Linked DNA regions of Homo sapiens: region 2 is linked to region 1. Evidence: fine-mapped expression QTL. A gene starts in region 1. The other region holds a variant in brackets. All regions are shown on one strand. Distances are from middle to middle. Region 1 holds the start of ACKR3 (atypical chemokine receptor 3). Region 2 has its middle 30 kb from the start of DRC11.

Evidence for each region.
Region 2: its variant is fine-mapped to the expression of ACKR3 in whole blood (TOPMed, PIP 0.92).

Annotation. Positions count from the first base shown.
Region 1 is chr2:236,564,695-236,573,029 of GRCh38, forward strand. ACKR3 (atypical chemokine receptor 3) reads left to right here and starts at 5,131. Exons shown (of 2, transcript NM_020311.3): 1 at 5,131-5,230. RefSeq lists enhancers at 2,616-3,491, 3,492-4,367 and a silencer at 3,141-3,190.
Region 2 is chr2:236,533,073-236,541,407 of GRCh38, forward strand. It overlaps a transcript of ACKR3 not described here. Among named protein-coding and RNA genes, the nearest start is that of DRC11, 30 kb to the left of the region's middle. RefSeq lists enhancers at 3,819-4,038, 5,142-5,191. The variant C/G (reference allele first, on the strand shown) is at 4,033.

The sequences.
Region 1 (8,335 bases):
AGGACTTAACACCCTCTGCTATAGGTTTCTACAATTGTTTTTCTTTTAAGAATATATTTTTTCTGTGGTACTAGGTAAAAGCATGTGCCATGAAATCGGGCACGCTTGGATTGGAACGCCATGGCCATTCAGTCACAGCCACCCTTAGGCAGGTCACCTGGTCTCTCTGGGCCTCAGTTTCCTCAATTACAAAAGTGGGACAAAGACAGTGCCACCTTTATGGCTGCTGTGAAGATAAAATGAAAGAAGATAGGCAACATACTTAACAGAAAGATGGGAAAACATGAACACTCAGATTTACCTATGACTATAAAACCTTTCTAAACTTCATCAGAGAGTTCAAAAATGTTGTCAAGCCTTGGAACGTATATCTGTTGCATTCCTTTAAAACTGTATGCTATCACTGGAATTTGGCTGGGGACAGAGGAGAGAAGCGGAAGAGAAATAGCCATTCTAGATACCTGCAAGAAACCACTCATGTGCATCCTCTCGTTTAATCCTGACAAGCACCCAGCTAGAATAGAAGGCTCTATTATAATTATAAAGATAGGAACCTAACATTCAAAGAGGCTGTTATCTGAGGAGACATGGTGTTGAAGAGGTTAAAATATGCGATTCCAGCGTATTGACTAAGTTCAACACTTTAAAAACAGCAGGTGCAACAAGATGACTTTGACCTTCCTGCTGTTTCTTAAAAGCAGAGGGTGAAATTCCTATGTGAAAGATGCCCTCCCTAGATGATGCAACATTTTTATATAGTCAAAGTCGAAACTGGGAGAGTTCTGTACAGATCTTGTTAAAAATAACTCTTATCTTTTAAGCCTCTCCATATAATTTAGTGGCTTCTTCACAACTAACTCTTCTCTGTCCAATCCACTACATAATTAACTGACTTTAGCTACTTCTTTGGGGTCTTCATTTCTTTATGAGGGCTCCTGTGCTGCGTGAAGTTTGTATTAAGTTTTTCTCCTGTTAATCTATCTTATGTGGATTAAATTCTTGGACTCAGCTGGGACCCTAAGAGGAGGGAGGTAGACTTTTCCCACCCCTACAGTGTGTATATATCAGGGTTCCAAGCCAGGTTGTCTGGACAGAGGAACCCAATTCCCTTGAGTTGAGGGGCTGTCTTTGCTTTTAAGCCGTTGCCCTGCAGAAGGGGCTTGGTGTTGCGGTTATTCTGGGGGAGCGTCCAGTCCCAGGTGAAATGACTCCTGCCATGCCCAGCTACCAGATAATGAAGCTTCTTCCCAGGGTCACAACTCCAAGAATGAGGAACGCCTCGTCCTCAGGCCAGCGGCGCAGCTGAGCCTCTCTGGGCTCATATCACAGTCACCATAACTGCACTGTCTCCACTCTAACGGGGCTCCCAGATCACAGACCCTACCGGCCGCCGCTCTGGCCCGCCAGGATCCTCACGCTTTTAAGTCAGGTGCGGTTTCTGGAAGAAGCCTGGTGGTGCCACATCTACAGGCGAATCAGATCCCAGAGCAGACAGAGCTGACCACCTGCCCTGTGGGGCGTGCAACCCCAGGTGCAGATTACAGACAGGGAAGGAGGGAGGAGCTTAGCTGAAACCCCTTCCTGACCCCTTTCCAATAAGCACTCAGGGGTAGCAAAACATCCAGGAACTTTTAGTTCTGGGTCAGCTGGGACAGCGGTAGGGACAGCGTCCTGTTCGTGCCTTCTCTGAGTTTTCTATTAGGTGCCACCAAACACATTCCCACCCAAAAGAACCATTATATTGGACCTTACTGAAAAGGTTAAAATATGCATTCTGGCATGGTAACTGTTTCAGTGAAAGGCACTTGAAAAACAGCAGGTGCAAGATCACTCTCCCCATAGCAGAAGGAAGACAGCATCCTTATCCTTAGGACTAGAAGCTGCCAGCTAAAGAATACTGCAGAGCGTCACTCTAATCTTTTTAGTCACATTTTCAAAGTTTATTCTTCTCTGTTTAATCCAGTATTTAAGTAGTGGACGCGAACTGCTTGCTCGGGTCTGTCCCTCTTTCCTTCCTTTCCTTCCCTTCCTTCCTTCCTTCCTTCCTTCCTTCCTTCCTTCCTTCCTTCCTTTTCTTTGCTAGGGCCTGCCTTTCTCTGTTGCTTTCTTTCTTGCTTTCTTTGTTCGGGTCGTCATCTCTTTCCTCTTTCTTTCTTTCTTTTCTTTCTTTCTCTCTCTGTCTTTTCTTCCTTTCTCTCTCTGTCTCTCCCTCTTTCTTTCTTTCCCCAAGGAGGATTTGCCTGCCTGCCTGCCTGCCTTCCTTCCTTCCTTCCTTCTTTCCTTCCTTCCTACCTTCCTTCCTTCCTTCCCCCTTCCCTTCTTTTTCTTTTGACAGAGTCTCACTCTGTCACCCAGGCTGGATTGCAATGGTGCAATCCCGGCTCACTACAACCTCCGCCTCCCGGGTTCAAGCGATTCTCCTGCCTCCCGAGTAGCTGGGATTACAGACGCGCGCCACCGCGCTGGGCTAATTTTTTGTATTTTTTAGTAGAGATGGGGTTTCACCATGTTGGCCTGGCTGGTCTCGAACTCCCGACCTCGCGATCCGCCCGCCTCGGCCTCCCAAAGTGCTGGGATTACAGGCCTGAGCCACCGCGCCCGGCCGGGTCTGCATTTCTGTATGAGGGCTCCCATGCCGCGTGAAACTTGCACTATGCTTTCCTCCTATTCATCTATCTTATGTCAATTTAATTCTCGGACCCAGCCGGGACCCCTAGAGGATGGAGGTGGAGTTCTGCCCTTACACTGAAAGCACAATCTTCCAAAAGCAGAGACACTCTTCAAAACTTTGAAAAGAGACTTTTAGGTCCTAGGGCAATGGAATCTCGTTTTCTCAAAAAGCCCTGCTTGCTTACCCTCTCGTTTTCCCCCAGGCCTGTTTTCTGGGACAGGGTGGGAGGCCCAAGGAGACAGCCAAGTTCAGGCCCCAAGCACCCAGCTCCTCCTCCCAGGGTGGGAGCCTGGCCAGAGTTCCCGACCCACCCCGCCCCATTCCCCGCTGGCGCTTGGTCCGCCCCTCCCCGTCTGGAAGCCTCCAGCAGCCCCGCCCGGCGGAACTAGGGGACGGGTGGGGGACGTCGAAGGGCGAGGGCGGTGACCCCGGGGCCAGAATTCTCGCAGGCGCCTGGGCCGGGTGCCCGGCCGTGCGTGAGTGCGGAACAAGTCTGGGCGCGGGGAAGGGCGTGGGTGCGGGCCGTGGGTGGGTGCGGGGCAGGGCGCGGGGCTGTGGGAGGGCGCGAGGCCGTGTGTGGGTGCGGGGCTGGGTGCAGGCCGTGGGTGGGCGCGGGGCCGGGGCTGGCGGGGCAGGGCGCAGGCTGCTGCAAGGCGGCCTCGTGGATTCTGGCCCCGGACGCACGAAGCGGGTTCTACTTTTTAAAAAAACTGCGTTGCCTTTTCCTTCCTCTACGTTAGCATCCTGTCCGGGGTCCCCGGCCCATGTGGCCTTTCTTCCAGCGACAGTACACTTAGCTCAGAACGGATTGACACCCACTCTGTGTTTCCACCGGGCGCGCAGGCTCTGCAATGCGGAGCGCGTTCTCTGAAGGACAGGCCCCGGAGTCACGGCTACAGCCACAGAAAGCGGAAACCGAGCTGCAGTCCAGAGGGGATCCCCGTACATTTCCAGCGGGCTCAGACACAGGGTCCCCCACAAGAAAGAAACAGGACAGAAAAAGTCAGGACACGTATGCTGTGGAGAGTCGAGGTCTCGCCTAGATCTTGGGTGTGGGTAGACGCAGCCGCTGGCAGTTTTCCTTTCCAGCGTCTCTGGGGAGCCTGGAGATGTCCTTGGTGCCGATGTGACACGAAGAGTGATTGCGCCGCCCTGCAGAGGCGGTGGCGGGACGCTGCGCTCGGGCTGGGAAAGGCCGGCCCCAGGGCGACCCCTCCGGAGGCCCCCGGAGAGCAGGTGTGCACCTCGCCTCCCGCTGGGCAGCCAGTTCAGGAGAAAAATGTGAAGCTTTTAGCTAAACAAAATATTTCTTTCGTTAAGGGCTTTCTCCACACGGAGACTTTCTAGCCACGTGAGACTTTGACCTCCCAGTCCCCCAGATTCAGCGCTGGGACCGAGCGTCTGCTGTTATTTTTAGTAGAAGTATAAAAAGAATCTCGAAAAGTTTTAGCTCTGGAGAAGGCGTGAATACAGCTGGTGCCTTCATACACTCCACTTGAGCCGCTCTTTAAGAACTCCAGGAGATCAGAAAGCAATACGAAAGCCAGAGCATTGCACATGGGATGGGCTGGCGGGTGGCCTTTGGGTCCCTATCTTATGGACGATTTTTGTAAATGGGGCATTGGAGATGAGTATCACCTGGATCACATTTTTAGGTTGAATTCCTCCGTGGGGGGAACTTTAGCAATACGCATCCAAATAAGAATGTAGATTGCAATAATTGTAGTAAAGTGTTTGCCAGACTCATCTCAGAAAAAGACATTATCAAAAGGCATTTATTATCTTCCTAATGCGTGTCTGGCACTGGGCAGACACTGTAGAATACTATCTTGATTAGAGTCTCAAGGATTTTGTACTTAAAGTCCTTTACAAATAAAAGTATTCAAGTATAATCTATTATAAAGACTCTTTTCTCCACTTTGGGGATATACGGTGTGGCATCGATTCATTGGTCATACCAAAACTGTTACTTCTGTTTTGGAGGAATTAACAAGGAAAACCCAGGCTTAGTAAATCAACATCGAAGTTCAGAAGTTCAGAGTAATTTGTCTTGGGAACAAAGTCCTCCCTAGAGCGAAGAGGCATTCACAGGAGCTCTTGGTGTTAATGGGATTATTCAAGATATACCTGAGACCAGATAAATATTTGATGATTTTGCCAAGCACTAGGGTTTCTTTGCAGTTTGTCTTTGGCTGACGTTTTCCCCCCGTGGGGTTTGGACTTTGTGGCTTCACCAGATTTTGCAAATGAAAGAAGGCTGGGGTTTCCCAAGAGTACACTTGTGCAGGAAACAACAGACTAGTGAGGTTTACAAGAGGGGGGTGTGTGTGTGTGTGTGTCTGCCTGTGGGATGGGGGTGGCACGGGGGAGAGAGAGATGTGGGTTACAAAGCTGCCATCTAGAGGCTAGAGGCTCCTTTCTGCAGTGTATATAATGCAAGTCTGCAGCCAGCAGAGCTCACAGTTGTTGCAAAGTGCTCAGCACTAAGGGAGCCAGCGCACAGCACAGCCAGGAAGGCGAGCGAGCCCAGCCAGCCCAGCCAGCCCAGCCAGCCCGGAGGTAAGGAAACGGTGCTCGGGCAGCAGCTCTGCTCGGAAAGAAGGCACGGCTTCTGCTCTTAAGCCAAGTGGTCTTTTCAAAGGCCTTCTTTAAAATCGCTCAGATGGGTGCTTTTGAGTCTGCGGGTCTGGTTTCTGAAAACCCAGGCTGCACGCAGCTGCATTGCAAAGTGCTTTTGCTAATTCGGAGGGCTTCACCTTTCTCTTCAGAAAGCAAAGGGCAGTTTTCTTAAGTCACTTGCAGAAGGAAATTTCCATGTGTATTTAGGAATCTGGTGTTTATTTGCTGTGTGGCTATTTAAGCTCCAGTAAGCAGGGGAACTTTGCAAGAACACAGACTATCCATTCTGCCTGACCAATTTGGCATGGGGATTAGCTTGGCACCCACTGTTTACCTGTTTTGCTTCTAGTATATCAGTTTGGAAACAGATAAAATTGGCAGTAAATACGTAATTCCAGAATGATGAACACTTTATTAAGAGGCATCCTTAAATGGAGCAGAAAACTGCTGAGAATCTTTGTGAGTCCAAGATGTATTTGAATTCAGTACTTTGGGGGATTTACCAGAGTCTGTAAGTCCGGAAGCTATAAACGTGAATGTTAAACACAGCCCGGTCTTCTCTTCTCTTGATGGCACGCTTGCTAATCTAATTTGAGTATTGTTCTCTTAGAAGGTGTTAAGTCCAACTTCAATTGGGGTTGGGGGAAGCACACACACAAATCTACTATTTTGCAATTTAAATATACTCTTCAGGTAAAATGTGGATTTTGTTCAATTTTGTTGGCATGTGCAAAGATTCAAGGAGTGACTGAGAGAACTTTGGAGTGAGGTCAGGGATGGGTGGTTAGCCAAGACTTGTAACTTCCAGGGAGAATGAGAAGTTGTAAAAGTCAGACTGGCTGTCTCTCTTTCTCTCTTCCTCTTTCTTTCTTTCTTTCTTTCCTTTTGCTCACAACAGGATTACTTAGTGTTTCAAAAGTGGGAGAGAGCCTCCTTAAATGGTTTACAGCCCTTTGAATGTATTTGGTGCAGTGACATCCCCTGAAACTTCAGTCTGCAAAGTCTCAACATGGTAACTTTGTTCTTTTCTTTTTTAAAGGCAGATGCTGCTTTTAGTGTCCCTTTATTTATTCCAGGAAAAATGTGGACATCAGCTAGGCACGCCTAGCAAAGAAAGTGGAGGCTGCTGGTTTCTGTGCTTTAACTTTCCATAGATTTTAAATGGATAAACTGCTTGCCCTTCTTTCATCAGAATATGAGCTTTCCCCAGATGGAAAGTCTTTTCTAAAGCAAAGTTGCACATGGGAGCTCTAGCTTGGAAACAATTTGCTCTTTTTTCCCCAGTCTCTGCCATAAACACTTGAATGTGCACACAACTGCAGAGCTTAATGCCACAACCTCCAGGAGATTGGGGGGAGGGGAAAGCTGCCCAGGATGGGGGTGGGAAAGCGAAGGAAGATGGAGAAATGGCTGCAGTTTGCTGCCCATCAGCTTTTCTCTTTTAAGGGGCAGACATTGCAGACGTAGTTTTAAAAAAGTTCCATAAAGCATCGCCAAGGCAGCATGCCTGTGCGACACACGCAGGGCTTTGGGGGTGTGTTTTCCCCGTATTAACAGCAAGTCGTTGAAGCGTTGAGAAGGTATTATGATTTCTAATCAGGCCCAGAACAGGCCAAGTATAGGCTTTCTGAATGAAAAAAAAAAAAAAAAAAAAAAAACCCAAAACAAAAAACCCTGCTTAATCAGGAACAGTGGCTTTTTGTGTGATCATTTTAGGGCGAGAGCTCCTGTTTTCAAGTCGACGTGAGGGAAATTGGTTGAAGTCACTCAAACCTGAGGCTGAAGGGCAGTCACTTTATAAACCTTAAGAGTAACCGAGGGGAAAGAAAAAGACCTCAAAGATTGCAAAACTTTAGATTTTTTTTTTGTGATTTTGTAGAACATGAGGGGAATCTGGGGCCAGAAGGCATTTGTACCTTTAAACCAGGCAATCAAATAACTTAGTTTTATTATTAGAAGCAAGAATAGTATTAAAACGCCTTCAATTGGATTGCACGTGTGTAGGCATAATTCAGGAAGAAACTAAAGATCGTGTCATGTCAAGTGTTACTAAAGTTCAGGAAGGAAAAGACAAAGCTCCAGGACACGTATTTTCTGTTGAAATAAAAGAAAGCAAGCCAGAAATAGACAGATCAGGACAGGGAGGCGTGCAGGCGGTGGCCCTGATTTTGAATATTTGATGGTTTCCTTCAGGGAATGTTTGATGCTTTTATCGACTAATTTGGAATTGAAAAAAACAAAACAAAACACTATTGCTTCAATATTAAAGTGATCAGGGAATTGCATAATTTTATGGTGACAATTTTAAAGAGCCACAGGTAGTTTTGGAAGCAGACTGTGTTTTGTTCCAGGCACTGAAAAAGTGGATGGGGGCCGAGACTATCTCAGGTGGCCTTGAACCACTGTTGGCAAAGGGACAGATAACGAGCCCAGGGCAGTGTGGGGGACTTTGCGTTTTGAAGTCTGGGTCAGCCAGATAGTAAGCATCTTTTGCTTTTCCTGCTATAACAGATATGTGGCCATCCTCCCTCAGTTGTATATGCAGAGCCTAAGTTTGCACAGTGTCCTCCTGGGAACCCCATTGTGTCTGGCTTAGGGCGGGGGTGAGGAGGCTCTCCTAGCCTGGCTGACCTCCCACTGCCTCGTCCTAGTCCTAAGCTGGGTGGGAATCAGGGCTCTGGTTACACTGGGCCGGCCCAGACGGCAGCCTTTGTGACGTGGGAATCTCTGGACCTGCTCTTGTGGGTATAGCTTTGCTTCCCTGTCGGGCAGCTGAGCACAATAGACCAGATCAGGTTTCTGGACGTGGGATTTATTTGATCCCCCAAATCCTTAAAGTGGACGAGGGTGTCCCACGTGTTCATGTGAAGTATGTCTAAGGACCCTGGGAAGAGGTGGACTGTATCTGAATCAGGATATAGAGTTTTCTGTAGTTATTATTTTTTGCGTTCTCAAGTAATTCAAAGCAGTTATGTACTTGCATAAAATAAGATCACTCACGGTCACTAGTGAATGTGTAGTCAAGACTGTTTTCCATTTGCTGGC
Region 2 (8,335 bases), 32 kb before region 1:
GATGAGTGGACAGATGGATGAGCACATCTTTGCTGATTATTCTTTAAAGGTGAAGAGGAGATGGTGGGTAGGTTGAGGTCTGGTTTTGCCTAAGTGAAGTGAAGCCATTGATAGGTTTGAGGCATGAACACCGCTTACCCCATCTAGTGCCAGTCTTACCTGAGGATGACTTGATTAGGAACCCATATGACACGTTGTACATCTATAAACTGATCAGACAACTCCTTTTGTGTGACCCCCAAACACTCATCCACAAAAATGTCCCATTTCCATTAGAAGAAATATCATGGTTCTCAGTCAGCTGCTTCTGCTGAGACCCCCACCTCCAGAAGATCTGGTAGAGGAAGCCCAAAGGCTCTTTCCATCGGAAGCATTTGCAGGTTGTAACACTTCTCATCCCACTCATGGAAGAGCAGAGACAGCCTGGTTGGGCGAGCACTCACTGTGGAGATGCACAGCCCTACAGGAAACAGCTGCCTTGTCCCTGTCCTGCTGAGTTTCATGGCATCACATGCTTCTGCCAACTGGAATCTTCTAGCGTGTGGTCCATGGGGATCAGATTTAAAGGCACCAAACTCTGAACAGTCGTACAGTGGCCTTGTGACAAGTAGTTTATCACATGACAATGGCATGGTGATGGTTACCTTCCCTAAAATATTAGGGAAAATTTCCCCTTTATGTAGTATATTTGCTAAAAATTGTATAAAAAATAGCCTAGTTCATAAAAGTAACACTAACCAAGTATACTTTAAAGATTACTTTTCTTGGACCAAGGATGTCTGGGCTCAATCTGCTTCCCCATCCAGGCCAGGCCTCTTGCTGATGGGCTTTGTGTGGGGACAGCAGGAGGACCACAACAGGGAGCAGGTGGGGAGATGTGGCTCACAGTTGTCCCCTGCTGCCCTCGGTTCCTCCAGCTCTGACTCTCCTGGCTCTGCAACTTCTATGGCTGACGTGTCAGCAATCGCTGGCCTTGCTCTGCTTTCTGGTGTTTGGGGCCTTTGCATTGCTACCCGTCAAACCCTGGTGTTCATAAGTGTTTGGTTTTATCCTGCTCAGTCCCACTGTCATACAAGACTCAGTCTTGGGATCTCAGGGAAACACGTGGGTCTCCTACATGAAAAGCATGGGGTCCCTTCCCTTTATGTCTCCAGCCCCGAGAGCGAGTTGCCTGATGGGAAGGAAATTCTTGGCAAATATGTTTGGGTGGAATTACTGTAAGGACTGGGTCTTTGAAGGCAGCACCTCCAAAGAATTCTAGCTTTTAATGTGGATGATTTGCTTCGTTTTCCTCGGAGTCAACTTGCCTGAGAAAGTTGTTGCTGAGTCCTTTCCAACTCAACAAGTTGAGGCAATATCTTGGAAGTGTTTTTAATGGGAGATCTCTGTTCTAATTCTCCTGGATTTCTCTTCAACTGGTTAGGATGGAGAGGAGGAAAAGAGGTCTGTTCTTGAATTTGAGTCTTGGTCTTACCACTACTGGGACTTGAGTGGTTAGACAAAAATGGTGGACAGACAGATATAAGGATTTGATGGTGAAGGAAAGGCTTTTTCACAATCTGTGTTTCTGTGGCCTTCCTGAGGGTCTCTTTCGTCCTTCATGGCCTGGCATAGGATTCTTCTATGTACTACTCAGATATAGTATGGCGCTATGGCTAGAATTTAGAGTTTTCCCAGCTCAGAAAGTGGGCAATGACCTGGACAGCCTCTTGGGATGCAGCTGGGATCCTAACTAAAAAGAAGCCAGGCTGGGCTTTCACAGGGGACAGTTGGGGTTGAGAAGCTCCATCCCCATGGCCTCCTTCCGCGGGACCCACTAAGGCTTGTTGGGACACGGCAAGCAATTTCCCATCATTATTATTCAGGGGAATTTCATCCATTCGAGTGGAGGTTTTGTCCATTTCTGGTTATTCTGAATTCCATAGGATTCCAGGCCCTTCCGGCTCTGAGGAGGAAACTTTCTAGCAAATGTGGATGCTTGTTTCCAGTCCTGTAGTTCCATATTCACATATTTTCTCACTCACGGAAGGGGTCAGGAAGAGAGCCGAAACCTCAGCAGGAAACTGGGTTGGGGGTCTAGGATGGAGCAGATTTGGAGCAATGCAGTGTTTTTGGAGCCAGGCCAGGGAATGCTGTGGTTATTACTCATTGTATTTCTAATGTTTCACAGGCAGAGCTTGGCGGTGTGCTTGATGCAAACATGGCAGATATGAACCTGGTGTTGTACCCGTGGGTCAGGATGAGGCAGGCATGGGTGTGTGTGAGGCCCTGGGTGTAGAATCAACCGAAAGTGGAGGCTTGCTAAGAAGACTCTATCTCCAATAAATCAGCTACCTGTGGGTCTGACTCCAGTCAAGATTGGCACCAGACTACCCTGGCTGAAGTGTCAGGGCCTCCCATCAAGGTCACGCATGGAAGGAGGAATCCGAGGGAAGCTGGGGAAGGTTGCTGGCTTCTCGCCTTGGGTGGAAAGGCGGAAGCCCTGGGGTGGGGGTTTAGGAGCAGTGCTTCTGTCCCCGCAGAGTTGGCTTGGCCATGACGGAAGAAAGCCCGGATCTCAAGCTGGGGCCTTCCAGAGGAAGGGGAGTGCTGATGTCAGGCAATCAGTCATGGAACTTTGATGTTGGGATCCAGTCCCTTGGGAGGGGAGTCCTTTTTTTTAAACTTTTAAGTTCAGGGGTACATGTGCAGGTTTGTTACATAGGTAAACTTGTGTCAGGGGGGTTTGTGGTACAGATCATTTAATCACCTAGGTATTAAGCCTAGTACGCATTTGTTATTTTTCCTGGTCCTCTCTCTCCTCCCATTCTCTACCTCATGATAGGCCCCAGTGGAGTAGGGGACCTTCTGAGTCCTGAGTCACAGCAGCTTTTATAAAGACAGGTTTTTCTTGGTGTCCGGTAGGCTCCCCTAGCTGGGCCAGCAGAGGGAGGTGGGTGCAGAGGATGGTGGGGAGGGCAGTGGGAGGAAAGGGAGACAGACAAGAGCAAGGGCTCCTGCTGGAGACTGGGTTCCTCCCAGGTATTAGGCCTAGCATGATGGGGTTTGTTCGGGGAGCTCATATCAGGGAACAGGAGCAGGGCTGAGAGAGTGAAGTGGGGAGAAGGGCAAGGTCTTCCACAGTGCTTCCTCAGGCTGGCCGCCACTGTGGGCTGCCGGATCCCATCCACTGGGCACTGAGGAGCTGGGGGGGACTTGCCTCTCAGAGTGGTCTGCCTGAGGACAGAAGGAGGAGCCGTCATCCAGTACATGCCTTCCCTTGGTCCAGGGCTGCCACACAGAGTCATTCCCAGGCTGTGTGGGCACCATGCGTGTGTCATAGAAAAGGTGCCCACAGGTACCTCCTGCAGGAAGCTTGTTGCTGCCACAGTGGCTGGAGTAAAAGGTGGGATGAGAAGCCGTGACGTTGAGTTCAAGCAGAGAGCTCTGTGATATGACGGGAACAAGAAAGGCTTCTGCACTGTTCATGAACTTGGTTGTAGCTTGTGGGTAACCCATGTCTTTCTATCTGGGGGAGGGAACATTGATCACCTTCAATTCCTGGGTTTCTGCTAGATGACCTGATTCCGGGGGAAGGTACCAGCTTTGGGAGTCAAGAAAAGCAACTCACCTAACGTATCTATCTGAGTCTTAGTCTTCTCACCTGTAAAATGGGAATAATAATTTATTTCCTATCTCCTGGGTATTGTGAGTTAATAGGGAATTACAATAATAAATTTCCAAAGGAAATGCCTTGCAGTGTGTAAATCCCTCTGCAGGTGTGAAGTGAAACTAATAGTGAAACACAGACGCATGTGAACTGTCGGCAGTTATGACAGCTGGCCCCTTGAGGGTTCTAGGTGCCTAGAGACTGTCTGGCACTTTTATATGCATAATATCATCTCATCCTCCTTGCAGCTCCTATGGCAGTCACTGTTATTATTCCCATTTACAGATGAGGACACAGAAACTCAGAGAGAGCAAGGGCCTTGCCCTGGGCCCTGCAGGAAGTGGTATTGGGAGGCTCCACGCTGCCTGTCTGCATTGCAGAAG[C/G]TCAGCCCCTTTCCTGCCCCAAATCTCTCACCACTGCTTGGTTAAACACGGTGTTACCTGGCTGTGTAGCACTGTGGCAAGCGGTCTACTAATCCTGATTGGATTCTAGGAATACCAGCAATGGGATGGCTGCCACCTGCTGACAGGGAGAATGGAGGAGGCCAAGGTCAAGCCCAGGGGCAGCCTGCCTTGGTCCTAAGTGTGAGCGGCTGGTGGAGATGAGCCAGGAGGAGGCAGAAGCTGGTAAGGAGGCTGGTTTTGCCTAGTACAAGGATTGTTACCAGGGCTCCATGAATAGGCTTGGGGCAGTGTCTCAGCCTCTCGAATGGCCTGTAAATGTATGGGCCCATGGGTGCATATGCTTTTTTCTAGGAAGCAGGTTCATCATTTTTATTAGTGTCATAATAATCCATGACCCTGAAGTTTGAACAGCAGTTCTCCATTGGGCCACCCTGGCATAAATGCAAGTGGTACAGGGCCCCTTGGATATCTCTGTACACATTGAGACCTGGACAACTTGTCCTTCTGAATGGCTTAAATCCCAAGAATTTTGCCTCTTTACGTGGCTGCTTTAATTTTATGTTTTTACCTTTTTGCTACTATTACTTATGAGCCAGAATTAGGAATTTTCCAAGAACTGGAGGGAGGGAAAATGTGTCCCAGCTTCATCACCCACGTGCTCTCTTCCACCGCCTTTACTTTTGTCTGCATTTTCTCCAAAAGGGTTAATGTTCTTATCAAATTCAGTTTTCTTTCTTTCACTAATGCGTATTCATGCTCTTTCAAGCAAGCAAGCAAATGTGCTTCTATTAGGCAATCAGTTCTGCAGATTACATTTTTTTAGTTGCTAGGCTAGAAAAATAAAAATAACCTAATAAGAAAGTGTTTATGTTGGAAGTAGGTATTCCAAAAAGAATAGTTCTTTTAAAAATAATTCCCCAAACAACTCTTAACAGGTCTTGATTCAAAGAGGTTTTGTTTTCTTTTTTTTTTCTAGCGTGAAAAGCAATATACATAAGCCAGATCCTTTCCTTGGGCAGCGTGGTTAATACTAGCACACATCACACCTGGTATTTGACTTCTCAGAAACTTGCTAAAAACCTTGTGTGGCCATAATCCCTGACTTGATTAACTGTTATTGAGTGTGTTCTGCAAAGTAACAGGAGCTTTAGATGTCTCCTGAAAAGAAAAGCAGAACAGACACAGATTGCCGAAATGAAACAGCAACACAGTGATGATATATTTTCACAACTTGAAATACTAAAAACGTGGTCAAAAGGATCCATCCGAGTCAGAGATTGGGCTCTGTCTGTGGCCACAGCGGAAGCCAGGTGCTGTGGGCTCACCACCCTGACCTTGGATGGATGGCAAGACTTGCCACCCCCACCCTCCTACTGAGGAGTCCCTTGGAGAAATCAATGGCAAAACTGGCCCCAAGCATGGAAAGGGGCTGCAGTTCTAAGGTGGACCGGGGCAGAGCTTGCTTTCTGTCTTCTGAGAAGTGGCTGGGGTAAGACCAAGTCTAGTGGACCTCTTGATGAGTAGATATCTGCCCTGCCCTTAAAAAGCCAACAGCAAACTACAGTGTAGGCACGGTTGCCAGATAAAATACAGACTGCCTAATTAAAATTGAATCTCAGATGAACAAGGAATAGTTTTTCAGTATAAGTATGTTCCATGCAGGTAGATGTCATGCATATTTCTGATATTGCTTGGGATATTCTTATCCTAAGAAGTGATGTGTGGTTTCCCTGAGATTGAAACTTAGCTGAGCATCCTGTATTTTTATTTGCTAAGCCTGGATACTCTAGCTCAGGGCAAAGTAGGCGCGGACAGGCTGTGTTGGCTCACCTTTCTGGTCAGGGCTATAGATTGTGCTCTCAGGTTCTAGGACTTCATGTAGCTGGAATGATGCAGTATGCCTTCTTTTGTGTCTTGCTTCTTTTACTTGGTATATTATTTTGAGATTCATCCCTGTTGCTGCCTCTATTGTAGTTTGTTCCTTTTTATTATTGAGTAGTATTCTACTGTAAGAAAATACTACAGTTTATTATCACGTCTGGATGGGCCTTTGGGTTGTTTCCAGTTCTTGTCTATTGTGAATAATACTTCTATGAGTTTTGATAGACACATTTGTGTGTGTGTGTGTGTCTCTCTCTCTCTCTCTCTCTTTGTGTAAACATTATTTTCATTTTTCTTTTCTTTTTTTTTTTTTTTTTTGTTTTTTAGACAGAGTCTCACTCTGTCACCCAGGCTGGAGTGCAGTGGTGCGATCTCGGCTCACTGGAACCTCTGCCTCCTGGGTTCAAGCAATTCTCCTGCCTCAGCCTCCCTAGCAGCTGGGATTACAGGTGTTCACTACCACGCCTGGCTAGTTTTTGTATTTTTAGTAGAGGTAGGGTTTCACCATGTTGCCCTGGCTGGTCTCGAACTCCTAACCTCAAGTGATCCACCTGCCTCAGCCTCCCAAAATGCTAGGATTATAGGCATGAGCATCCGCCTTGGCCTCCCAAAGTGCTGGAATTACAGGCATGAGCCACCACATCCAGCCATTATTTTCATTTTTCTTGGGTAAATACCTAATAGTATAATTGCTGGATCTTATATTGTATTAGTCTGTTCTCATGATGCTAATAAAGACATTTCTGAGACTGGGTAATTTATAAAGGAAAGAGATTTAACTGACTCACAGTTCTACATGGCTGGAGAGGCCTTACAATCATGGAGGAAGGCAAAGGAGATGCAAAGGGACGTCTTACATGGCAACAGGCAAGAGAGCATGTGCAGGGGAACTCCCATTTATAAAACCATCAGATCTCATGAGATTTATTCACTACCATGAGAACAGAATGGGGAAAACTGCTCCCATGATTCAACTATCTCCACCTTGCCCCGTCCTTGACACAGGAGGATTATTACATTTCAAGGTGAGATTTGGGTGGGGACACAGCCAACTGTATCATATAGTAAGTGTACATTTAACTTTATAGGAAACTGCAAAACAGTTTTCCAAAATGGCTGTACCATTTTACACTGTGGCCAGCAATATGTGAGTATTCCACTTGTTCCTCATTCTTGCCAACACTCGACGTTGTCTGTGTTTTTATTTAGTTATTGTAGTAATTGTAAAATAGTGTCTAAGAATTGTGGTTCTAATTTGTGTTTCTCTGATGATAATTCAGTTGAAAATCTTTTCATTTGCTTAATGACCATTCATGTATGTAAATAAATTTTGTGTTCGTCTTTTGTCTGTTTTTTTTTTTGTTAGGTTATGTGTCTTCTTATTGAGTTATACGGGTTCTTTCTATATTCTGGACACCAGCCCTTTGCAGATATCTTTCTCCAGTCTCTGACTTGCCTCTTCATTTTTATAGGTGTCTTTTGAAAAGCAGCAGGTTTTACTTTGATTAACTCAAATTTGTCATTTTTTACATTAATGTTTAGTGTTTTTCATGTTCTAAGAAATCTTCCTGCCTCAAGGTCACAGAACATTTATTTCCTTATATAAGTTATATAATTTAATCTTTTACATTTACATCTAGGATCCATTTGGAATGAATTTAATGTGTGGTGCAAAATAAGGGTTGAGGTTCATTTTTTTCCTCACGTGGTTATCCACATTTTTCCTCCATTTACTGAAGAGACCACCCTTTCCTCATTGATCGCATTGGTGTCTTTGTGGGAAATTGATCAATCATGTATGTGTGTGCCTGTTTCTAGGGTCTATCCTGCTCCATGAATTTGCACATCTGTCTTTACACAATAGCACACAGTCGTGATTATTGTAACTTTATAGTAAGTATTTAAATCACTTGTACCCAAATACCTGTTATAGATTACTCCACTTTCTGGCAGAATCCAAGCCAAGACAACTGGGGACATCTTACTGCACAGCTCCTTGCTAGCATCTCTACATTTTTACATTGGTACCTGTAGTGGCTTGGATCTGTTTCTGACCCTGTCTCTGGGCTAATCTATAAAAAAGCATTGACTGGCTATCCTTACCTGATATCACTGTAGAAAACATGTATTTTCCCTTCCTCTCTGCAATAATCGTATAAGATTATAAAAGTATAAGTTGTTGAAAGTTCTTAAAAATAAAGCTTACTTTGCATTTCTAATTTCTTAACTTTCAGTCTTTTTCTACTTTTGCTCCAAAAATGTTACCACAACAGACAAATGCCAGTGGTTATGTGTTAATACCAGGAATTTCAGCCTTTTTTAAATACCAAAGAACGTGTGGTTCATGAAACATCCCTCGTCTGACACACTCCCATAGCCTTATTCAAGTTTCTAAAGAATT